3 separate regions of the Homo sapiens genome follow, and regions 2 and 3 are each reported to be linked to region 1. Evidence: microRNA targets listed by miRTarBase, many of them from high-throughput screens and not tested one by one. Region 1 holds a microRNA gene; each other region holds the end of a gene's coding sequence.
What was found. Region 1 holds the annotated microRNA hsa-miR-7151-3p (CUACAGGCUGGAAUGGGCUCA, at 3,157-3,177, opposite strand). A microRNA usually pairs through its seed, bases 2 to 8, with sites in the 3' UTR of a target mRNA and lowers its output. Matches are read on the target gene's strand: a 7mer-m8 pairs with bases 2 to 8, a 7mer-A1 pairs with bases 2 to 7 and ends in A, and an 8mer does both.

Region 2: the mRNA of SLC12A6 is a reported target of hsa-miR-7151-3p. Seed matches in the 3' UTR shown: 7mer-A1 at 2,467-2,473, 7mer-m8 at 2,910-2,916, 7mer-A1 at 3,030-3,036, 8mer at 3,104-3,111 and 7mer-m8 at 3,239-3,245.
Region 3: the mRNA of KIAA1549 is a reported target of hsa-miR-7151-3p. Seed matches in the 3' UTR shown: 8mer at 4,486-4,493 and 7mer-m8 at 4,351-4,357.

Annotation. Positions count from the first base shown.
Region 1 is chr10:67,400,195-67,407,194 of GRCh38, forward strand. MIR7151 (microRNA 7151) reads right to left here and starts at 3,216; the gene lies at 3,157-3,216. All of the region lies in intron 5 of CTNNA3 (catenin alpha 3), which reads right to left.
Region 2 is chr15:34,227,893-34,234,972 of GRCh38, reverse strand. SLC12A6 (solute carrier family 12 member 6) reads left to right here. Exons shown (of 26, transcript NM_001365088.1): 26 at 1,001-5,189. The coding sequence ends at 1,092. It overlaps EMC4 (ER membrane protein complex subunit 4), which reads right to left. Exons shown (of 5, transcript NM_016454.4): 4 at 6,384-6,544; 5 at 4,817-5,220. The coding sequence ends at 5,185. Among named protein-coding and RNA genes, the nearest start is that of EMC4, 6.4 kb to the right of the region's middle.
Region 3 is chr7:138,829,936-138,840,730 of GRCh38, forward strand. It overlaps KIAA1549, which reads right to left. Exons shown (of 20, transcript NM_001164665.2): 19 at 10,198-10,343; 20 at 1,446-8,225. The coding sequence ends at 7,971. Among named protein-coding and RNA genes, the nearest start is that of ATP6V0A4, 37 kb to the left of the region's middle. RefSeq lists an enhancer at 449-948 and a silencer at 2,029-2,323.

The sequences.
Region 1 (7,000 bases):
TTCAAGATGCCAATAAGAATTTTACTCTGTTGTGAGTGCTTGTCATTTGTAACTATATTGTTCCCACATCTAACAATCTATCACCCATAAACATGTCAAAGTACTGTGACAAAGTATAACAAATGATTCTCCAATATTTTGAATAGATTTACTTTTAAATAAATGTTACAGATGTATTATGAAATAAGAAATAAGCTTACAAATACATTTATTTTAACATCTTGTGTTGATTATGAGAACAATAAAAATGAGCAATTCACGGGAAAATAATTTCAGATAGATTTTGTCTCCCTACAAATGGGCATCCTGATATTCACTCTGGAATAAATACTTTAGGAAGAAGATGATATTGAGATCATATCCCTTTGTTTGGTAATCAAAGGCTTATTTTTCATGTGGAAAATTTTAAGTGCTAATAAATAATCCACTGCAAACCACATAATTTTTGAAAATAACCCCCAAATTATATACACAAACAAGTAAATTTTAGTGAATGTATGCAATTGCTATTGGCAGTTATTAGATCCTAATTACTTTTCAAAAGTGGAATTAATAATATGTAATTTAATGTCTTACAGGATATTATAAAGATGTAATTTTATTGGACTTTGCTTCTAATACACTGAACCATAAGGCTAAATTTAAAACCACTTAGAAAAGAATATTAGAATTAAATTACAGAGAAATTTACAACTAAATTAAGAAACTCTATCAATTAAAAAACTTTGCTGTCATCCTCAAATGTGAGTGCTTATCTAATAATATGATCCTGGACTAAGTGTTGTGTATACTTCAGATATAAAATTTTCATATAGGCTATTCCTAGGCAAATACAAAAAGTAAACAAAAACAAAACAAAAAATACTGATGACTAGTGATCACATTAAAATAAATGACATCATAAAAGTGACCCTTTTCCCCTTCCACCTCCCACCACATTAGGACAGCAACAGAGCATCAGCTTGGAAGCAAAAGCAGCCCTCACAAGATCACACCTGTCAGTGCCTTGATCTTGAACTCCTGAGCCTCCAGAACTATGAGAAATAAATTTCTGCTCTTTAAAAACCACCCAGTTTCAGCATATACTGAAAATTCAAAACTTGCCATACTTTTAAAATATAGATTGGGACTAGATACAGTCAGAAATTGCCACTCCCACAGAAAGAGACCCAATTTAATATACACCAACATAATTTGAACAAATCTTCAGAGAGAAACTACCAAACATGGATTGAGAAAAGATGCAGTCCCAGAGACTGAAGAAGAAGGAAGTTAGGCACCCAATGTGGGGTGCCTGAATGCTAAGGCTGATTTCCAAACTGGAAAGGTACCTGGGGAAGGGGATTGGTCCAGTAAGGATATGGGTTATTTCCATACCAGACCTCTCCCTAAGGGAGCCCCGTGGCCCCAAAGACCTAATAAAAACAACAACAAAATCGAAGGTACAGTGCTAGTGATTGGATGTGGCTCCCCCAAGCAGACCTGATGAGGGGGTCATCTATTTCCCCCTTGCACTGCAGAACACAGCTGCAAATGTTAACATAGACAAAGGAACCACAAGGCTGAGTAGAAGCCTATCTACTGCCCATTGCTCTCAAGGACCATCTACTAGATTGTAGCCCAAACTACAACACCAAAATCACTTTACTAATCCTGCCCTTGCAAAACCAAGAGTAAGAATTCTGCAACGAAGACACCATACAGAGCCTTAGTTCTCTAAAAACTTTCAGAAACAAAGCCAACAAAGTACACTCAATTTACACCACAATTAAAAGAATACCATCCCTCCCAGATGAGAAAGAATCAGCATAAGAACTCTGGCAATTCAAAAAGCCACACTGCCCCCTTACCTCCAAATGAGCCCACTAGCTCCCCAGAAATGTTTCCTAACCAGTCTGAATTATCTGAAATGACAGACATAGAATTCAAAATATGGATGGCAAAGAAGCTCATTGAGATCAAGAAGAAAGTTGAAACTCAATCCAAGGAAGCCAAGCAATCCAGTAAAATGATTCAAGGGCTGAAAGGTGAAATTCTCACTTAAAGAGAGACAAAAACTTAATTTCTTGAGCTGAAAAATTCACTACAAAAATTACATAATATAATTGGAAGTATTAACAGCAGAATAGACCAAGCTGAGGAAAGAATCTGAGAGCTCAAAGAGCAATTCTTTCAATTAACACAGTCAGACAAAAATACAGAAAAGAGAATTGAGAAAGATGAAGAGCAGAGAGTGGGCCGAGACCTCCAATTAGAAGTAGCTATGGTGCATGGCACTCATAAAGAGGAAGAAAAGCAGTGAGTAAATACAGCACCTTCAACTGAAATATCCAGGTTTTCGCACTGGGACTGATCAGGGAAATAACCAATCCACAGAAAACAGAGAAAAGTAGGGCAGGATGATAGCCCACCTGGAAGTGACGCAAAGCCAAGGGAACCCCCACCCCAGCCAAGGAAGTGGTAAGTGAATGTGCCACCCTGGGAAACCACATTTCTCCCATGGATCTTTGCAACCCTCAGATCAGGAGATCCCCTCATAAACCCACTCCACCAGGACCTTGGGTCAGATACACAGAGCTGTGTGGAGTCTCAGCAGGGCAGCCACTCAGGTATGCACAGAGACCCAGGAGATTTACATACCCCAGCCACAGGATCCCTGGCAAAGGTGACTACAACTCAGTCAAGGCGGGAGGTCCATACATACCCCTAGGAAGGGGGCCGAATCCAGGGAGCTGAACAGCGTCCATCTGTGGGCCCCATTTCCAAGGCACCTCACAAAATAAGACCCACTGGCTTGGAACTTCAGCCAGCCACCAGCAACAGGGTAGTGCCTGCCTGAGATGGAATGGAGCTGCCAGGGAAAGGGGTGGGCTGTCACCTTTGTTATTTGGACAACTCAGCTGTTCAAGTCTGTGGGCTTTGGAGAGTCCAAACAGTCTGGACAAGTAAGGGACCCCCAGCACAGCACAGCACAGCTGCTCTATGAAAATGTGGCCAGACTACTTCTTTAAGTGGGACCCCAATCCATTCCACCCCACTGGGCAGGACTTCCCAATAGGGACCTCCAGCCACCCCTGCCCATATTCTAGGAAAGAACTCTGATCTCTCCCTTGGCTGGAGTGCCCAGTGGGGAGGGATGAGCTGCCAATGTTGCTTTGAGCCCATTCCAGCCTGTAGGCTTTGCAGAATCCAAGCCAATACAGGCAGAGATGGATCCCCAGCAACGCATGGCTGTTTTGTCAAGGTGTGGCCAGACTGCTTCTTTAAATAGAACCCCAATCCATTCCTCCTTGCTGGGCAGGTCCTCCCAACCAGTGCTTCCAACCACCCTCACCCATGTTCTATGGCTGACAAAGTTCTAATTTCTCCCTGTGATGGAGTGCCCAGGGGGCCAGGTGGGCTGCCACCTGTGCTGTTTGGGCATCTCACCCAGTCCAACCTGTGGGCCTTGGAAAGTGCAAAACTATATGGGGGTGAAGGGAAGCCAAACACAGCACAGCTGCTCTACAAAAACGCAGGAAGGCTGCTTCTTTAAGGAGGTCCCTGATCCCATTCCTCCTGACTAGGTGAGACCTCCAAAACAGGGTTTCCAGCCACATCCTATGGGTGCATTCAGGCTGGCAACAGGTCAGTACTTCTCTGGGACAGAGCTCTGAGAGGAAGGGGCAGGCTGCCATCTTTGCTGTTTTGCAGCCTTCACCGGTAATACCTACAGGTACTGAAAAAACTGAGGTGACTAGGGTCTGAAGCAGCCGCCCAGCAAATCATAGCAGCCCTACAGAAAAGTGGTCAGACTGTTCAAAGAAAAAACGAGCAAAACAACAAGAACAACAACAACAAAAACCCATCCAAAGGTCAACAACCTCAAAGATCAAAGGTAGATAAGCCAACAAAGATGAGAAAGAATCAGCACAAAAACACAGAAAACTCAAAAATCCAGTGTGCTCCCTTTCCTCTAAATGACCACAACACCTCTCCAGCAGGGATTTAGAACTGGACTGAGGCTGAGATGGCTGAGATGATAGAAATAGGATTCCAAATGTGGATCTAAAAAATGAACTTCACTGAGCTAAAGGAGCACTTTGCAACTCAATGCAAGGAAGCTAAGAATCATGATAAAACAATGCAGGAGCTGACAGCCAAAATAGCCAGTATAGAGAGGAATATAACCAACCTGATAGAGCTGAAAAAAACACAACAAGAACTTCACGATGCAATCACAAGTATTAATAGCAGAATAGGCCAAGCAGAAGAAAGAATCTCAGAGCTTGAAGAATGTCATTCTGAAATAACACAGGCAGACAAAAATAGAGAAAAACAATGAAAAGGAATAAACAAAACCTCCAAGAAATATGGGATTATGTAAAGAGACTGAATCTATGACTGATTGGGGTACCTGAAAAAGATGAGGAGAATGGGACCATTTTGGATAACATAATTCAGGATATCATCCAGGAGAACTTCCCTGACCTACCTACAGAAGCCAACATTCAAATTCAGAAAATGCAGAGAACCCCAGTAAGATACTTACTCCACAAGAAGATCGTCCCCAAAACATGTAATCATCAGATCCTCCAAGGTCAAAATGAAATAAAAAATGTCAAAGGCCACTGGAAAGAAAGGCGAGGCCACCTACAAAGGGAAGCCCATTGGACTAACAGTGGACCTCTCAGCAGAAACCATGCAAGCCAGAAGAGATTGGGGGACAATATTCAACATTTTTAAAGAAAAGAAATTCCAATGCAGAATTACATATCTAGCCAAACTAAGCTTCATAAGAGAAGAAATAAGATCCTTTTCAGACAAGCAAATTCTGAGGGAATTTGTTACCACCAGACCTGCTTTATAAAAGCTCCTGAAGGAAGCACTAAATATAAAAAGGGAAAACTGTTGCCAGCCTCTACAAAAATACACTGAAGTATACAGACCAGTGACATTATAAAGCAACTACATAAACAAGTCTGCAAAATAACCAGCTAGCATCATGATCACAGGATCAAATCCATACATAACAGTATTAACCTTAAATGCTCCAATTAAAAGACACAGAGTAAAAAGCTGGATAAAGAACCAAGACCCACTGGTAAGCTGTCTTCAAGAGACCCATCTCACACGCAAAAACATACACAGGCTAAAAATAAAGGGATGGAGGAAAATTTACCAACCAAATAGAAAACAGAAAAAAGCAGGGATTGCAATCCTAGCATCTAACAAAAAAAGACTTTAAACCAAAAAATATCAAAAAAGACAAAGAAGAGTATTACATAATGATAAAGGGTTCAATTCAACAAGAATAGCTAACTGTCCTAAATATATGTGCACCCAAAACAGGAACACCCAGATTCATAAAGCAAGTTCTTAGAGACCTTCAAAGAGACTTAGACTCCCACACAATAATAGTGGGAGACTTTAAAACCCCATTGACAATATTTTCTAATATCTCTATCATCAAGACAGAAAATTAACAAAAATATTCAGGACCTGAACTCAACTCTGGATCAAGTGGAACTGACAGATATCTATAGAACTCTACACCCCAGAACAACAGAATATACATTCTTCTCATTGCCACACATCACTTACTCTAAAATTGGTCACATAATCAGAAGTAAAACACTCCTCAGCAAATGTAAAAGAACTGAAATCATAATGAACAATCTCTCAGACCACAGTGCAATCAAATTAGAAATCAAGATTAAGAAATGCATTCAAACCCACATAATATGGTTTGGCTGTGCTCCCACCAAAATCTCCTCTTGAATTGTACTTCCCAAAATCTCCACCTCTCATGGGAGGAACCTGGTGGGAAGTAATCAGAACATGGGGGCAGTTTCCTCCATGCTGTTCTCATAATAGTGAGTGAGTTCTCAGGAGAGCTGATGGTTTTATAAGAATCTGACATTTCCCCTGCTGGTACTTCTCTCTCCTGCCACCTTGTGAAAAAGAACATGCTTGCTTCCCCTTCTGCCATGACTATAAGTTTCCTGAGGCCTCCCCAGCCATGTGGAACTGTGAGTCAATTAAACCTCTTTTCTCTACAAATTACCCAGCCTGGGGTATTTCATCATAGCAGCATGAAAACAAATTAATACCCCACAAAATTACATGGAAATTGAATAACCTGTTCCTGAACAACTGTTGGATAAATAATAAAATTAAGGCAGAAATCTTGAAATTAATGAGAACAAAAATACAACATACCAAAATCTCTGGAACCCAGTTAATGCAGTGTTAAGAGGGAAACTTACAGCACTAAATTCCCACATCAAAATGTTAAAAAGATCTGAAATTAACAACCTAACATCACAACTAAAAGAACTAGGAAACCAAGAGTGAACAAATAACAAAGCTAGCTGAAGACAATAAATAACCAAAAGCAGAGCTAAACTAAAGGAGATAGAAACATGAAAAACCTTTCAAAAGATCAAAAATCCAGAAGCTAATTTTCTGAAAAAAAGTTAATAAAATAGACTGCTAACTAGACTAATAAAAAAGAAAAGAGAGAAAATTCAAATAAACACAATCAGAAATGACATGGAGGATATTACCACTGACCCACAGAAATAAAAACGACCATGAGAGAATGTTATGAACACCTCTATGCACACAAATTGAAAATCTAGAAGAAATGGACAAATCCCTGGACACATACACCCTCCCAAGACTGAACCAGAAAGAAACTGAGTCCCTGAACAGATCAACAACAAGCTCTGAAATCAAATCAGTAATGAATAGCCTATCAACCAAAAAAAGCCCATAACCAGATGGATTCACCGCTTAACTCTACCAGAGGTACAAAGAAGAGCTGGTACCATTCCTATTGAAACTATTCCAAACAATTGAAAAGCAGGGACTCCCCCATAACCCATTCTATGAGGCCAGCATCATCCTGATACTAACACCTGGCAGAGATATAACAAAAAAGAAAACTTCGGGCCAATATCCTTGATAAACATTGATACCAAAAATCCTCAACAAAATACTGGCAAACTGAATCTAG
Region 2 (7,080 bases), not on the chromosome of region 1:
TAGGTGGTGTATTTGCAACATGACATCTAATATTCAGTGTATAAAACCCTTCCTGACAATCCTACAGACAGCATACCCACATCCTTTCGCCTTTTTAGGTTCTACCCGCTTTGCAAAGCCTTTCTTTTGGATAGAGTTAGGGGAGAAGCTGAGATAGAACCTCCTTTAACTGAGGGGAAAAAAGAGATAGGGATTCTTCCTCATACCTTCATCCCAGGACTCCTGGGATACGGGAAACCCTTCAGCATTGACACATAAATTAGCTTATTCCCACCAGTACCATTAAGAAAGAAGAGGTTTAGGCCAGGTGTGGTGGCTCATGCCTGTAATCCCAGCACTTTGGGAGGCTAAGGCAGGTGGATCACCTGAGGTCAGGAGTTCGAGACCAGCCTGGCCAACATGGTGAAACCCCGTCTCCACTAAAAATAGAAAAGTTAGCTGGGTGTGGTAGCAGGTGCCTGTAATCCCAGCTACTCGGGAGGCTGAGGCAGGAGAATCACTTGAACCAGGAGGTGGAGGTTGCAGTGAGCCAAGATCGCACCATTGCACTCCAGCCTGGGCAACAAGAGGAAATTCTGTCTCAAAAAAAAAAGAAAGAAAAGAAAAAGGTTTAAAAAGAAAAAGACAAACCGAACTGGCAGAAAAATCTGACTTGAGCAGCTTCACTTAGAAATTACTTGGGTTCTCTCTAGGAATCTTGTTAGCTGCCCTATTGTGGCTTTTCTTCTTCTTTCATCATTTTTATCTTATTTAGAGTAACACTTCTAGGTTTTCCCATTTTTTAAATACACAAATGGGAGTCTGGTATTATGTATGCAAAAGGACTGGATCTCTGGTTACTTCACAGGGTTAAATTCAATCCAAAGTTCAGACTTTTCTGAATATATAATAATTAAGCAGCTAATTTTGTAGCTCTATGATCAGATAACCTCAGATTATGATGATGCCAGGTTTTAAGTTTGTGCTCTTCTTTTGCCTGTCTCCTTGACAAGTTTTGAAGACATGGAGTTCCTAGAGGTGCTTACCGAGGGACTAGAGCGAGTCCTACTTGTCCGGGGTGGTGGCAGTGAAGTGATCACCATTTATTCATAACCTACTCTGAATGACCGTGCTTGACCTGTTTTCTTAAAAGGCCTACGTCCTCCATGGAAGTGCCAGCTCATTACTACCACTCCCACTCAACTAGAAGCCTGTGTTCTGTACACATCATACTGAACTCTTGATGAGCTGAGCCTCAAGTACCTGTGTAAAAGAGCTCCCATCTGATCTGCAGTCATTACAGAAAAAGCAAATATTCCCTCAACATCAGAACAATGCTCAAGTCTTTCAAGCCACGTCTGAGCAGTCAAAGGCAAATTAGAATTAACAAGCTGAGCCAATAAATGAATTGGTAAAAGGGATGCTAGAAATTCAACTGAAGAAAAAAAGCAAGTCAAGTACGTATTCAGCATTAAAGATGAATCTCAGAAGTCATGGTTCAATGTTGACACTGTGAGGATAACAACTAGAGACAGCTTCATCTTACTAAAGAATTTATGGTCAAGTATATTTGGACCTATTATCCTCGGCAAGCCAAGATGCAAACATTTTTTAGCTATATTTCTTTAGTATACCCACTGCTGTAATTTTATATTAGGATACTAACTTGAAACATGGCTGCAGCCTCTACTTCTTCAAAAACATCCCCCCAAAATACCAGATTTAAATATCCAAATACTGTGTCAGTGTATACTTCAACTGTTTTGTTTCTCTTAACTCAAAACCCATTCTGTCATTGTAACACAGGCAGTGTTACCATGGAAATTGTTTTTGGTAAGGTAAAAATTATTTCTTTCAGGTTCCTTTCAAATGGCCGAACTAAGAGAACTCCAAAAGGAAGCTATTAACATTTACTGAAATAGTCTGTGGTTCTCTATACAACATGGACAAAACATACAAGCTGTTGTCTAAGAAATGCAGGTCATGGTGCACATTAATCAACAGGTTCTTCTCCCCCCGCCCCCACCCCCGCGCCTTTTTTTATGCCCTCTTATTAAGCACAGGTCAAAAAATCTTAAGGAACAAATACTAGGAAAACTGGCTAAACATCCTTCCCTGAAAGCACTGGACCATCTTTTAAAGGGCACATCTAGCAATGGAATTGGAAGTTCTAGAGCCACACTCTTTCTTTAGTGCCAACGTTACTGAGCGGCTACTCTCCTTACCTACTTTACTAAAATGGCATACAGATTGGCATTGACCTGTTGAAGAAATTTTACCACTAAGAAATCTTTTGCCTCATCTACAAAGCCATAGTTAAGACTTGAGGCATTCAACTTAATGCCAAGTATAAGCATTTCCCCCTTTTTCTTTCAATTTTATTCTTCATTCTGACTACAGAAACTTGGCCCTGAACTACGAGATTAGCCAAGCCAACAGTCTTCTAATTTGTTTTCAGAAACTTCAGGCCGGGTGCCGTGGCTCACACCTGTAATCCCAGCACTTTGGGAGGCCAAGGCAGGTGAATCACTTGAGGTCAGGAGTTCGAGACCATCCTGGCCAACATGGTGAAAACCTGTCTATACTAAAAATACAAAAATTAGCTGGGCATGGTGGTGCATGCCTGTGATCCCAGCAACACGGAAGGCTAAGGCAGGAGGATCATTTGAACCCAGGAGGCGGAGGTTGCAGTGAGCCAGGATTGCACCTCTGCACTCCAGCCTGGGTAACAGAGTGATATGTTTCAAAAAGAAAGTTCAGTGTGCCAAGGAAATACTTGTGTAAGCTCAGCTTTTTATTTACTAATATACTGATCAAACATCTGGCTTACAAGCATAGGGAAACTACTTATGTGGCTGGCTGAGCAGTAATTTCAAGTATGTGAAATCTTCATTTCTTTTACAGAATAGTTATTTAGAGAAACTTTTCTTGCCTGTATTCATGGCTGTTTTTGAATTTCAATTTATTAGTCATAAATAGTGCCACTCTTCTTTGATTACTAAATAGGACATGGAGCAAGCTGACCTAGGTGTCACAAATTATTCATTTGACCTGTAAGGACAGAGAAAACCCTTCAATATAGCTTAAGAAATTGAGTAATTTTGGGCCGGGTGCAGTGACTCACGCCTGTAATCCCAGCACTTTGGGAGGCCGAGGCAGGCGGATCACGAGGTCAGGAGATTTGAGACCATCCTGGCTAACACGGTGAAACCCTGTCTCTACAAAAATACAAAAAAATTAGTCGGGCATGGTGGCGGGCGCCTGTAGTCCCAGCTACTTGGGAGGCTGAGGCGGGAGAATGGCGTGAACCCGGGAGGTGGAACTTGCAGTGAACCGAGATTGCACCACTGCACTCCAGCCTGGGCGACAGAGGGAGACTCCATCTCAAAAAAAAAAAAAAAGAAAGAAAGAAAGAAATTGAGTAATTTTGATTTGTTCCCTTTGCTTGCTTCAACCTCCAGGCCCACTGAGGATGGCAAAGCGGATAGGATCTTAAGTCTTTTTTTCTGTTACTTCCTACAGATGGTAGAAGCATTATTTACAACTCCCACTGCAACACTCCATTGCTTAGTTGAGTTTAACAGTAGTGAGTCATGTCCTGCAGGATCCAGTATCTTTTTTTTTTTTTTCCGAGACGTAGTTTCGCTCTTGTTGCCCAGGCTGGAGTGAAATGGCACAATCTTGGCTCACCGCAACCTCTGCCTCCTGGGTTCAAGCGATTCTCCTGCCTCAGCCTCCCGAGTAGCTGGAATTACAAGCATGTGCCACCACACCCAGCTAATTTTGTATTTTCAGTAGAGACGGGGTTTCTCTACTGAAACTGATGTTGGTCAGGCTGGTCTCGAACTCCCAACCTCAGGTGATCCGCCCGCCTTGGCCTCCCAAAGTGCTGGGATTACAGGCGTGAGCCACTGTGCCCAACCAGGATCCAGTATCTTAAAGGCCCATACTGTAAAGGTCAGCCTGCCTAGGAATTCTGCCACATTTACACACACCCCTGGCCAAAGTAATATTTTTTTTTTCCATGTAGAACAAATTATGGGCAGAAAGTAAAGTTAGTTTTAGAAGTGCTGTTTGTGGTTGGAGAATTGTAAAAATCTTTTAAAGGGATAAGGGAATTAGTGGCTTTTAATATAACCACTGCTTCAGCCCGAAACACAAAATCACTGTTACATGGAAAACTGGTTATTAGGCCAGATTTATATTCATGTCTGTCTAGAGTATTTCATGTGTGTATGTGTTGCTTACGTTGTCTGTCTCCAAAGTCTCTCATCTCTTTTAATCACTGCAAATAAAGCAATACTGAAAACTTGAGAGAATGCACCTTAGGGGAAGGGGCTATTTCAAGACAGAAAACAAAGGAAATACCTGCCTTTTGAATAAGATCCCGCTTTTGAGTCTTACCTATGACTTTACCAGGGTAGATTAGAAATACACATCCTCCTGCTGACCCTCTGCCTTCAATAGCTATCTATCTTAAAAGCTGAAGTTTGAACTGCAGCATCTGCTTGACAGGTGCCAGGTTCCTTCGGCAGGGGGACGATCACTCTATATATCTTCCGTTGCCTCAGATTCCTGTGGCCCAAGGATCCCACCAATCCTCGTTCCCCCTAAACATGCTAACAAAAATCCCTTATCGTGGGTATTAAAATAATAACAGTTACACTGTATGCATATTTATGTGCTCCTTTTGTCTGGTTTTTCTTTTCATCATGTATAAGCTGAATTCAGCATTAGTTTCTCACATCTTCCCCCAGGTATCCCCAACAGAATTTTTATGTCCCAGCTTGTATTAAATAGAAGTGAAATATTAAGGAAAATAAGGAACTTGTGCAACTTTTTTTATGCATTGTTCTCAACCATTTAATTTATTGAAAGGAGATGCTGCAACAGTTCTTGATTTAGCAGCAGTTATTCTCTTGTTTACATAGTTATGTTTTTTTGTTGTTGTTTTGCTCTGTACTGGAAACAAAAATAAAGTTTTCTACATTATTTTCAGCCTTGGGTTATGGTATAGTTTCTTTGTGTTTGTCGTAATATGCACATTGTCCTTCTAGGACCTGTCACCCCACCATGGAGAAAAGAGTCTTTTGGTTCTTTTTAACATAAGTGATTAGTTTAAGAGTATGCTGAGGAGCCACTGGGCTTAAAGAAGGATGTAAATAAGACCCAAATACATAGGGACCAGGCGCTGCTTTCTCATGTTCACAAAAGCAGTCCTCCACCACTGAACTCCATTCTCTGAAAGAAGAAAGAAAGAATAAATAGGTGAGTGGCAAATGAGTGTTAAAATAACTTCCTGAATCAATTACTTAATACTTTAACCACAAGCTCTATTTTGCCTATCCTTAAAAAAGAACTTCCAGGCCAGGCGCAGTAGCTAATCTTAGCTAAACACTTTGGGAGGCCAAGGCAGGCAGATCGCTTGAGCCCAGGAGTTCAAGACCAGCCTGGGCAACATGGCAAAACCCTGTCTCTACAAGAAATACAAAAATTAGCGAGCCATTGGGGTGCACACCTGTAGTCCCAGCTACTTGAGAGGCTGAGTGCCTGAGCCCGGAGGTTGAGGCTGCAGTGAGCCATGATCACATGACTGCACTCCAGCCTGGGTGACAGAGCAAGACCCTGTTTCAAAAATAATAACTTGGCCAGGCATGGTGGCTCACACCTGTAATCCCAGCACTTTGGGAGGCCGAGGTGGGTGGATCACCTGAGGTCAGGAGCTGAAGACCAGCCTGGCCAACATGGTGAAACCCTGTCTCTACTAAAAATACAAAAATTAGCCAGGTGCAGTGGCAGTTGCCTGTAATTCCAGCTACTAGGGAGGCTCAGGCACAAGAATCGCTTGAACCTGGGGGGCGGAGGTTGCAGTGAGCCAAGATCACACCACTGTACTCCAGCCTGGGCGACAGAGTGAGACTCTGTCTCAAAATAAATAAATTAATTAATTAATTAAAAATAATAACTTAAAAACTCCTAATGGCTCTTATTTTTTAAGAAACCCTAGGCCAGGCGCAGTGGCTCACGCCTGTAATCCTAGCACTTTGGGAGGCAGAGGTGGGCAGGTCACTTGAGGTCAGGAGTTCAAAACCAGCCTGGCCAACATGGTGAAACCCCATCTCTACTAAAAGATACAAAAAAATTAGCTGGGCATGGTGGCAGGTGCCTGTAATCCCAGCTACTTGGAAGGCTGAGGCAGAATAATTGCTTGAACCCAGGAGGCGGAGGTTGCCGAGATCATGCCACTGCACTCCAGCCTGGGCGACAGAGCAATACTCCGTCTCAAAAAAAAAAAAAAAAAAAAAAAGAAACTCAAATACCAACTCCAATTTCCTACCATCAAGTAGGTCAGCTATTCACTGTATACTACAACTACCCAAAATTCAGCTTTTCTTTTGCCTTACCTCAGGGGGCTCAATGAAGGCTAACCAATCCGATGCATGTGTAGGTAACAGTCCCATGGACTGGCACTTGTAAACAGCCAATGCCAAACCCATCAGGTTCCCAATGAGATAGACCAAACCCTGAAGAAACTTCTGGCTTGAACTTTCTAACATCTTGAAAGCTGTTGCGGTAACAGAAGTTGTCAAACCAAAAGAACTCTTTCCCCCAATACGAATCAAGCCAACTGTATATTAAATTCATATAGACAGACCCATAGTAAGACAGCAAATAGGACCATTAAAGGCAAACAGAAAACCATGGTAAGCACTACACTCCCCTCCATGCCACCACCATTACCCCACTCCCCTATATACCTGTTAGCCAAAAACTGTCCCTAAGAATTTACCTTTAATTCTTCCTTTTTTTTGAGATGGAGTCTCGTTCTGTCACCCAGGCTGGAGTGCAGTGGCACGATCTCGGCTCACTGCAACCTCTGCCTCCCAGGTTCAAGTGATTCTCCTGTCTCAGCCTCCCAAGCAGCTGGGATTACAGGCGTGTGCCACCACGCCCAGCTAATTTTTGCATTTTTAGTAGAGACAAGGTTTCACCATGTTGGCCAGGCTGGTCTCGAACTCCTGCCCTCAGATGATCCACCCAGCTTGGCGCCTCCCAAAGTGCTGGGATTACAGGCGTGAGCCACCATGCCCGGCCTGCCTT
Region 3 (10,795 bases), not on the chromosome of region 1:
ACAGGACAGGATTATATGAGCCTCTGCAGAAGGTCTGTGGGCTTTACCTGTGCCAGATTCGTGTTTATATTTTTAAATACTTTTAGATTTAGAAAAAAGATAAAAAGATGCAAAAATGATTTAGAGGGTTTCAGGATACCTTTTACATAGCTTCCTCTAATATTAAAATCTCAATAACCATAATAAAGTTAGCAAAACCAGTACGTTAATCTTTGTACAATACTGTTAACTATAGACTTGATTTGGATTTCACGTTTTCCCACTATATTCTCTTTTGTTGTTGCTGTCATTCCAAGATCCTATCCAGGATTCTGTGTCATTTAGCTGTTATATTCCACTGTGTTTTGAGTTCCTTTTCCAAGTTTTGTTTTTGTTTTTTTGAGACAGAGTTGCACTTTGTCACCCAGGCTGGAGTGCAGTGGCGCGATCTCGGCTCACTGCAACTTCTGCCTCCTGGGTTAAAGCAATTCTCCTGCCTCAGCCTCCCGAGTAGCTGGGATTACAGGCGCCCGCCACCATGCCTGGCTGATTTTTTTTTGGTATTTTTATTAGAGATGGGGTTTTGCCATGTTGGCCAGGCTGGTCTTGAACTCCTGGCCTCAAGTGATCCACCCACCTCGGCCTCCCAAAGTGCTGGAATTAAGGCGTGAGAAACAGCGCCCATCCCCTTTTCTAAGTTTCAAGGGGATCTTGTTTTCTTGGGTTGTGTAAACAACTCCAGGGTTATCCTATTACCTTTCAAGACTGTGTGGACTTTGGTCTTCTCATCTTTCTAAATTGTGAGGCACTAATCTTTTAATTCCAAACTGAATTTGCTCTTAGTGGATTCATCCATTTGCTAAGTGGGTAGCAGTCAAACTACACTGAGTAGAAAGGATTGGCACAGGCAAAAACGAGTGAAAACAAGTCTGCAAATTCCACACACTGAATAGAATACCTTCAACTTAATTTCTTGGACAATGAAAGTGAGGCAGGAAAATGGGGTCTGGAGTAGGGGACATAAGGCCGAGCCACAGTTCAGCTATGACAGGAAACATCCTCTCCATAGGGTGTACGTCGAGTAAATGACTGTGTGACTTTACTTAAACCTCTTCATTTACATAGGGCGTACACCAAGTAACCAATGGAAACCCCTAGAGGGTATTTAAACCCCCACAAATTCTGTAACCGGGCCCTTGAGCCCCTATGCTCAGGCCTGCTCCCACACTGTGGAGTGTATTTTCATTTTCAATAAATTCCTTCATTCTTTCCTTGCTTTGTGTGTTTTGTCCAACTCTTTGTTCAAGACGCCAAGAACCTGGACACCCTCCACCAGTAACAAAAGTACTGGGTGTTCTCACCAGAGACACAAAATTAGAGAACAGAAAGATCATCTCATCCAATGTTTCATGTTTTACAAACGAGAAAACTATCATGTTGCAAAGGAAATCAACAGAAAATATCACTTTGACACCAATTCATAGCATTTATTGACATTTCCATTTAAAATGCTAGGAAAGCTGTATAAATTGTAAACATGGAAACCAAATACTTGCATAAATTATTTCAAAAACTCTACAGCACATTAGAAAACAGTGCAGCTATTGAAGGATAGAAACATAAAACCGACAAATAGAAGGGAGGGGCCGATTATTAAATCGTATACCCATACTGAGATTTCAGTGCCTGTTTGAGGACCAGCAAACCATGATTGTCAAGTTTAAGTTGCAGTATTGATGCCACAGTTGGCCTCAATTTGCTCTGCACATTTCGTACATTAACGCTCATAATCTAGGGATGAGTGTGCAGGAAGAGCCAGAAAAACATGGACCTTGACAAAGGAGGGAGAGACAAGTCAGTACTCCAGGGCAGCTCTGCCGAGCAACCTTTCCTATTAACGCTAGCCAGACTCCCTGCGTCCCAGAGATGCTCCGGAGGAGGGCAAAGTCGAGGGCGTTCCCACTCCCCTTTTCTGAAACAAGTCCTCTGGTGCTTAGAGCAACTGAATGAATGGGTGGAGCCTCAGTTCCTCTAGTATCTCCCTCTTCTTTCCCCACATTTGCAGGAGGAACAGTACAGCATATGCGACTTGAACTTGGCCCTGTACTATTCCCAACTTGTACACTTAGGGAGTCAAGTTATGAATACTTGAAATCTGGTAAGTACAGGAAAGACTATTCGTGATGCTCCAAGTAGCCCAGAAAGGTTCTGTGTAATCAGGGACTGCAAGAGACTCAAGTCACTCAAAATTTCACCTCTGTCCCTTTTACCTATTCCTTTTTTTTTTTTTTTTTTTTCCAGAGACAGGACCTCACCCTGCAGCCCAGGCTGGAGTGCAGTGGCGTGATTATAGCTCACTGCAGCCTCCAACTCATTGGCTCAAGCGATCCTCCAGTCTTAGCCTTTCGAGTAGCTGGGACTACTGGCACATGCCACCATGCTCAGCTAATTTTTAAATTTTTTTTGTAGAGACGGGGTCTCGTTATGTTGCCCAAGGTGGTCTCAAACTCCTGGCCTCAAGCGATCCTCCTGCCTCAGCCTCCCAAAGCGTTGAGATTAGAGGCTTGAGCCACCATGCCCAGCCTATTCACTCTTTCTTTAGAAATGTGAAGTGACCCCTGAAAAACCTGGAGGAAGAAGGAAAAGGAAGGATCCTGGATAATTATCTACCCTGTGGGAAGCCATTTTAACTATACTGCATTAAGACATTCATTGCTTCTGTCACTTTCTTACTGGCTCCTAACTTTGTTTCATGTTTCCAAAGGCATTTAATATTCTTTTCCTAAATTTCAATGCTGCTGTGTTTTAAGATAAATTATCAAGCCTACTGTCACACACACAAGCATGGACTTAGCAATGTACCATGATGTTGCGATTTCCAAGTCATCTTCATAGTGGAGAAAGTAGTCCTGTTTAAACACTGACAATCACCTCCACGAATATCAAAAGAAACCCGAAATGCACATCCTCCTTGTTCATTAGGTAACAAGTGTTAAGTCTATCATAGTTGATGAGTATGTTACAGCAGCTGCTCATAGAAACCCTGTTAGAACGTGTTAACATGTTAGATTAAATGTAAAAATGAAGTTCAGTTGACTATGCCATAGAAATGTGTTTTGTGTTCACATGCTCTGTCTGCCGGTACAGAAGTGGACTTCCTCCTGCTCCTGTCCAGGGCAAATGTGGATAAGCAGGCTCTAGTACTGGCGCTGGCACCTTGCTCCGGAGGTAGAAATGACCACGGTGAAAACTCCACTTGAGCTAAAGTTAGCGTGGGAGTTAAGACCGGAGTCCTCCTTCCCCTGTGCCCAAAACGTTACCCAGCTTTCCTTCCAAACGACAAATTCATTCATGTCTGAGAATCTAGTGTGAAAGGGATGAGAGAGACTTATATAACAACTAATTTGTGAATTACTGCCAATGCACTGCAAATCAGTGTCCGAATGACTGGCTTGGTCACTGGAACACTTAGAAAAAAGTTGTGCGAAAGAAGGAACGCTGAACCTGTCCACGGGAAACGGGAGACTCCTATAGCACAGAACCGCGTGCTGGCTTTAGCCCAAAGCCTTTAGCGCCTACCTTCACCCGTGCTTTGCCTCACAGTCCGCATGCCAGGAAAGATCTGGCCGGCAAACACCCACTGCTTAAAAGTCATCTGCCACCCAAATCAAAACACTATGAAATTAATAAAATTTGGAGAAAAATGTGTAGGTAGCAGTAAAGAAGCTGAATATATATATAGATAGATAGACAGATACATAGACAGACAGACAGATAGATAACCCACTATGCTCCACAAAGGATATGGCGTGGCCAAACGGCTGCTTGAGATCTGCTCTAAACAATGACCTCAGTGTCATTCTCATCATTTTCGTCCTCTTCCCTTGCCTCCCCCACACTGGAGTACTTCCTCTGTAGATCTTCACAGCCCTGGTCGTTTCCTTGCTGCATGACTGCAAAAGCATCCTTCCAGCACCTCTTCCTTCTCTTCTGAAACTCCCTCAATAGTGCAGTCGGGGATTCTGTCCCCATATCAAAGCAGATCAAGATCAAGTTCATTTCAGTGACAGCTTCACTCCTTCCCTACAGCCTTTCCCAGGCCCACTCTCAGCTCTTCCTTCCACGCCATTTGCCTGGGTAGCTGCCCTGCCTTCAAAGTCACTTCAGAAGTTGACGTCTCCCCAAGATATTGCATTTCCAAACATGCAACTTCTTCTGGGTGCCTAATTCATTTATGTCTTTTGAACAAATTTTTTTCTTTTTGAGACACAGTCTTGCTCTGTCGCCCAGGTTGGAGTACAGTGGTGCAATCTCAGCTCACTGCAACCTCCACCCCCCGGGTTCAAGCAATTATCGTGCCTCAGCTGGGACTACAGGCATGCGCCACCACACCCAGCTAGTTTTTGTATTTTTTTGTAGAGACGGGGTTTTGCCATGTTGCCTGGGCTGGTTTTAAGCTCTTGATCTCAAGTGATCCACCTGCCTCAGCCTCCCAAAATGCTGGGATTACAGGCGTGAGCCACCGCGCCTGATCTCTTCGAATGAATTTTATTGACACTTAAACCATGTTATTTATCGGTATCTTCCATCTTCTATACCCACTCGTGCTATCTTAGATTCTAAAATCTCAGAAGGCAAGGCTCATGTCTGCTGGGTTATTTGGTGCCAGAGACACCAGAAAGTCGGGAGCAGAAAGATGCTTAATAAATGCAATCGGAAAATTGGTGAAGGAAGTGAAATTAAAGCAAAATGGGAGTGAGGAAACTGAGTCACACCGAGCTTTCGGTTTTGCTCATTACCCATGTGTGAACCCATTCACCGCAGTAGTGCAGCGTTTCACATCACTCATCCTAGGGCGTCCACATAGACAGCATGCTACATTTTCACAGTGCTTTATGCTCCCTCCTCACAGGACATCTGCACACATGATCACATCTGATTCTCACAACTACGGTGCCTGGGAGGTGGCGGGGGAGGTCTGTTCTTGTTTGGCTTATGGGGAGAATGAAGTTCAGAGAAGGAACCAGACATGGTCAGTGAGTGACAAAGTAGTCTCTGAAAAAAAAAAAAACAACATTTCTCCAAACATTCTGACTCAAATTTACAGTTTGTGTTACCACTAGAACTTTTAAAATAGGAAAAAAGAATAGACATAAAATTCAACTGTTCATTGTAGAGTGCTTCCATAAACGGACTCCAAAGCCACACGCTGTCAACGCAAGGACCCTTCCTTTCAGTGGATGACGTGAACTTAATGTCTGAAGACCGCTAGGGTACGGTGCTGCTCACACAGCTAGTTTTTTCTGAGTTTGGTGACTGGCAAAACTGTTGTGGCAGGCGTCGAGAGGAAGCAAGTACAAACTGTGTGTGCTTTATGACCACCAGCAGAGGGCTGGTGATCCGGGGGCCTGCTCACACCACACCATAACCACCGGCTGTTTATTATACATCATCTTTGGTCTTGACATCTGTTTAAAGGTGTATTGTTTCTAAGAATAAAAATACAGTTAAAATCCCTTTATGGTAGTTTGAAAGACATCAAAATTGCTTTTACGGTCAGCCCAATTTGAAACAGAACCCTCTTTCTGCAATGCTCAAAGGAGGTTACCATTTTTAGCACACTCTATGTGCAAGCCTGTATGGCCCTGAGCGGAACTGGGTGAGAAGGGGCCATTTATCCCGTTTGCTGTCACACGATTTGAATTCATTACAAGGTGTCCATAATAAAATTCTGCTTGGATATCTGAAATTCTTAATAACATATTCAGGAAACCTGGTATTTTTGAGTGACATACAAAGATAATCGTTCAATTTGGGAGGAGTCGGGTATTAAACCAAGACCAAGAGAAATTTGGTATTAAACCAAAACCAAGACATCAAGCCCAGAAAGGGGCATTCTCTCCAATGCTCCTTGGAGCCTCTGAGGATCGCCTGATAAGATGCTGCTGGTCCTTTGTTGAACGTCCTTGAGAGACTTACTCTCCTGCACTCCTTCTCTTTCAGAGGTGCCCAGATGAAAACTGGCTACATCTTACCTTCCCAGAACCAACTTCCCTCATATTGTAAGACTCTAAATCTGTACAACAGGCTTCATTAATGAAGGGCTAAAACATGGTTTTGAAATCCAGTGATTACACTTTGGAAACCTGTTTTAGCTGTTTCAGGGGTCTTAAAACTTGACACAGATACACAGGTTTTGATCAGTCAGAGCCCCAAATTCTATAGCCCCTTATCTGTTATTTAATGAAAAGTACAGTCATGCACACATCAGGATGTTTTGGTCAATGACGGTCTACATATTGATGGTAGTCCCATAAGATTATAAAATTGTATTTTTACCATACCTTTTCTATGTTTAGCTATGTTTAGATACACAAATACTTACCATTGTGTTCAGTACAGTAACATGCTGTACAGGTTTGTAGCCTAAGAGGAATAGGCCATGCCACACAGCCCAGGTGTGTAGTAGGCTATACCATGTAGGTTGTGTAAGTACAATCTAGGATGTTGGCACAGCAACAAAACAGCCTAATGACACATTTCTCAGAATGCATCCCCATCATTAAGCGATGCATGACTGTCTTCGCTGATCTAATAAAAACAGGTTAATAGTGAAAATCTCTTAGCTAAGCCTGCTTTTCTTCTGAGTTTCACTCAGGTACCAGAAAACAGAACAGCCCTTGCCACTGTTTTCTTTACCATTATTTGGAAAGTGGGGGAAATGTTTACATCAGGAGTACATCTTAAGCGAGATGATCCCCTCTTAGCCCAAAGAGCATAAGACAATTTTAATAGCCACTCGACAGAGTAACAGCACAATAAAATCAGAAATGAGAAGCAACTCTCTCCTTTCCCTTGGGGTCTCAAAGCTCTTTTACATTTCTTGATTCATTACAGAGAGGCTGAACTGAACTCAATTTCATTTCCAGGCTCTGAACACAGGGAATGTGACTGGTAGGGATGTATGTATAACAATTTCGTGGTGCTGGGAATTATTAAATAACTTCTGCTTACAGAAGATTTCTCATTCAGACATAATTTGTGAACAAATCAACAGCAAAGTGGAAGAAAGGATCAGTTAGGACCTCTTGAAAGCCGCATTCTACAGGATCGGCCTTAGCGATCGGTGCTGAACTGGGACATGACCAGGAGTTGTGTGTGCCCAATTAAGAAACAGCAAATACAATGAAGAATGTAGATCTAAACTTTGATCTGTATTTTGGATAATCAAATAAATATAAAGCTTTTTGCCCCACTTTGGGAGGGATTTTTTTTTTCTAGAACAAAATGAAACCTTCAACATATTCTTCCACTGAAAAAGCCAAAGTTCCATTTCAGACATGAAGGTGAAGGGCCCTTGGAGCTGTAGCACCAGAAGAAGGAGGAAGAATGCGGGTGATGGCTTTGTTTGGAGTCATCAGGCTCTACAACCTATCATTTGGTTTCTCACTAGTAGCTTTTTAAAATTCCCAAACAGTCTTAGTATTCTTGTTGTTAATGTTACTATTAAAATAAGTTCCTATGGAGTAAAAGAGAAAAATTAAGCTGTTAATAAAATGTCTTCAAACCTCTTCTCAGAAAACAAAGCAGCAGGTTCATCGTACACGTACCAGTCTCAATCCCACAGAAACGCTTGGTTCCTTTCATCCCTATGCTGTCTATACAGTTTAATCTCTACCTTTAAAAAAGAGACGAATGCAGTCATTTTGTTAGCTTAGGTTTGTGTTTTGTTTTTGTGAAGTGCTGCTGGCTTTTGGCCAAAATACATATATTTCAACTGAACCCAAGTGTTCAGACAATTGCCAGCCCAGTGAAAGGCTCATGAGCTGTCACACGACGTATGGCATCTTCTAAATTGCAACTTGCTCCCTCCCTTGGGCAGGCTGCCCGAGAGTTGCTCCTTCCTCTTCCAAACACCCACTCAGTTGATTTCCTTTTGGTCTTGCTTCCACAGGAAGCGGATACTTGGCAAATCTGCGAGGCGAGGCCGATCAGCTGTGGAAGTTCTGCACGGTGCTCTGTTTCTGGGAGAGCCGGAGGAGCTCCTCGCGGATTGCTTTGATGAGAGAGGCCGAGGAGTGGCCAGGCTGGAGGTCTTCCGTGGAGCTGGTGGGGTAACCCAGCCCAGGGCCCTGCAGTCCCCGGTGGGGGAGGTTCCCGGAAGGAGCTGAGGGCTCCCTGCCTGAAGTCCTTGGCACCTGAAATAGCGGTGAAGAAGAATACTCTTGATGTCCGAGCATGTGTGTCTGAAAAACATGGCAAACGTCACTGTACTTCCTACGAAGAATAAGCCGAAACATCAAATGCAAACTGGCTTTAGGAAGGTTCCCAGGACTGCCCACGTCCATCCACCAACTCAGCCCTCTAACAGGGCCCTGCTGCCTATGCTGCAGGTGAGGCGTGAAGACACCAGGGGGCTGGGGAGAACAGAAGGGAGGGAGGCTGGAGTGCCCCATGATGTGAAAGGTCGGGTGATATCTGAGAGCTGAAGGAGGTTAAGCGGATCCATGCCAGGCTGACAAGGGGAACAGGTGCCTCTGCCCTGGACTGGAGCCTACGCAACCATCTTCTGCTTTATCTAGCTGCTGTCTGTCTCCTGTCTCTGCGTGAGTGTGTGTCTACTGAGGGCTCTGTAGAGCCTTGTCTTTAAAAACTTATCTGCACTAAAGCATAAAATAGTTTTGCTGATATTTGCCGCATAGAGATTAATTTGGCAGGAGTTTCACAAGAATTATTACACTTTTCAGATTTTTTTTTCATGTTTATTTCTCTCCCAGTGGAAATAAATGTCTCTTTGCATTTATATGTAAGAGTACTTAAATCTGCGTACTAAAAACCATGTTAGGGCTAAGTTATTTGTGAGCCAAACATGACATTCCAGCTCTAGGTTCTTTCTACGTTTCACTTCTCCAAATAGTGACCGAGCAGTGTTCCAAAGTGGATGTGACAGGAAAACCTTAACACACCATGCCAGGCACGGTGTCTCATACTTGTAACCCCAATCCTTTGGGAGGCCAAGGAGAGAGGATTGCTTGAGGCCAGGAGTTCAAGACCAGCCTGGCCAACATAGTGAGACCTTGCCTCCATTTTTTCAAAAAAACAAAACACCAAAACCAACCCCAAACACCTCATGAAGCTAAGCTGGGCAAAATGAAGGCAAAAAAAGAGAAATGGCAGCAAACTTAAAGCAGATACCTGAGACTCTAAGTATAACAATGTCTCTTTTAGGGAAGCACCTTATTCTAAAGTTAATGTCTTTTTACTAGGTAAGAGCATCCAGCCATGAAAGGAATTGAGTGTGTCTGTTGGGAAGGCACAGAAATGCAACAGACACTGTAGCATAACGATAAGGAGAAAACAAAAAGTAATATTCTGGGTGGTTATTTTCAAACTTCATGAATTTATCCCCCCAAGATATACAGTTCTTGAGAAAAGCAAATGAAAGCACTTGTAGGAATTACCGATGCTCATATTGAGTGAACAGAAGTCTCAAAAAGAAAACCTGTGCCTTAAAATGTCCCCAACTGTGTGCTTATTACAAAATTACCTACACATGGTCATAATACAAATGACATTAACAAACCCACAGTGAAACACAAATGCTGTGGAAGAGCATGAATATTTATACAGCAATCCCGCCAAACATGAACTCCAGAGTTGTCACCTATAGATTCGAATTTACTACTGAAAGCTTGAACTCTGCCTCAAGAAAAATTATATACTTCCTAAAAGCTAGATGCTAAAAACTGTAAGCCAAAACACCAGGAGGCAGGAAAATGTGAGAGAGATTAAAACTTTTTTAAATGTAGGTTTTAAAAAGGGACCCCCCCCAAAGCAGAAGCTGCTAAATTGAGGGATTATGTCTTTTTTTTTTTTTTTTTTTTTTTTTTTTTGAGACAGTCTCACTCTGTCACCCAGGCTGGAGTGCAGTGGCACGATCTCGGCTTAGTGCAACCTCCATCTCCCGGGTTCAAGTGATTCTCTTGCCTCAGCCTCCCAAGTAGCTGGGACTACCAGCACCCGTCACCACGCCTGGCTAATTTTTTTTTGTATTTTTAGTAGAGACGGGATTTCACTACATTGGCCAGGCTGGTCTCAAACTCCTGACTTCGTGATCCGCCCGCCTCGGCCTCCCAAAGTGCTGGGATTACAGGTGTGAGCCACCGCACCTGGCCTATGTCTAAATTTTAAATGATGACCCAAACAGGAGATACTCACGGCCTCTCTTCGCCCCGCTTCGTCCTCCCCGTACGAAGGCCAGCCTGGCCCCCCATACTGGCTGCCTCTGCTTGGCGGGATTTCCACTGGCTGAGCTCCAATTCTGCTGGCAATCCCCACCTGTGTCAGGTGCTGGATCTGGGAGCCTGGAAGGAACATGGTGGAGTGGCCTGGTCAACATTTATAGGAGAGTATGGCTGCTGAGGATGGCTGCCGAGGAAGACACTGTCAACTCTGACCACTACACTCCTTAATGACAAGGGATCAGGACTTGGTACCAGTTCTATCTCCAGAAATCTCACCTCAACTGCCATACTGTCAGCATTTCCTGAGGGTCCCATAGGTAAGGAAATGCACCACGAAGCGGTAGGAAAATGTACCACGAAGCACCGTGGACCAAGCAATAAAAATAAACAAATAAAAGAAGAAAATCCCATTGCAAAAAAAGTCTGAAACAGAATTCTTGACCCCGTGACATTCATCCCTAAGCCTAAGTCTGTCCCCCATTTCGCCCTCCCCATTTCCACCCAGGGCTGTGCAGCCCTACTTGCTCAGATCTAAAAACCTACACCCTATGCGCCACTCCTCTTTCCTGCGC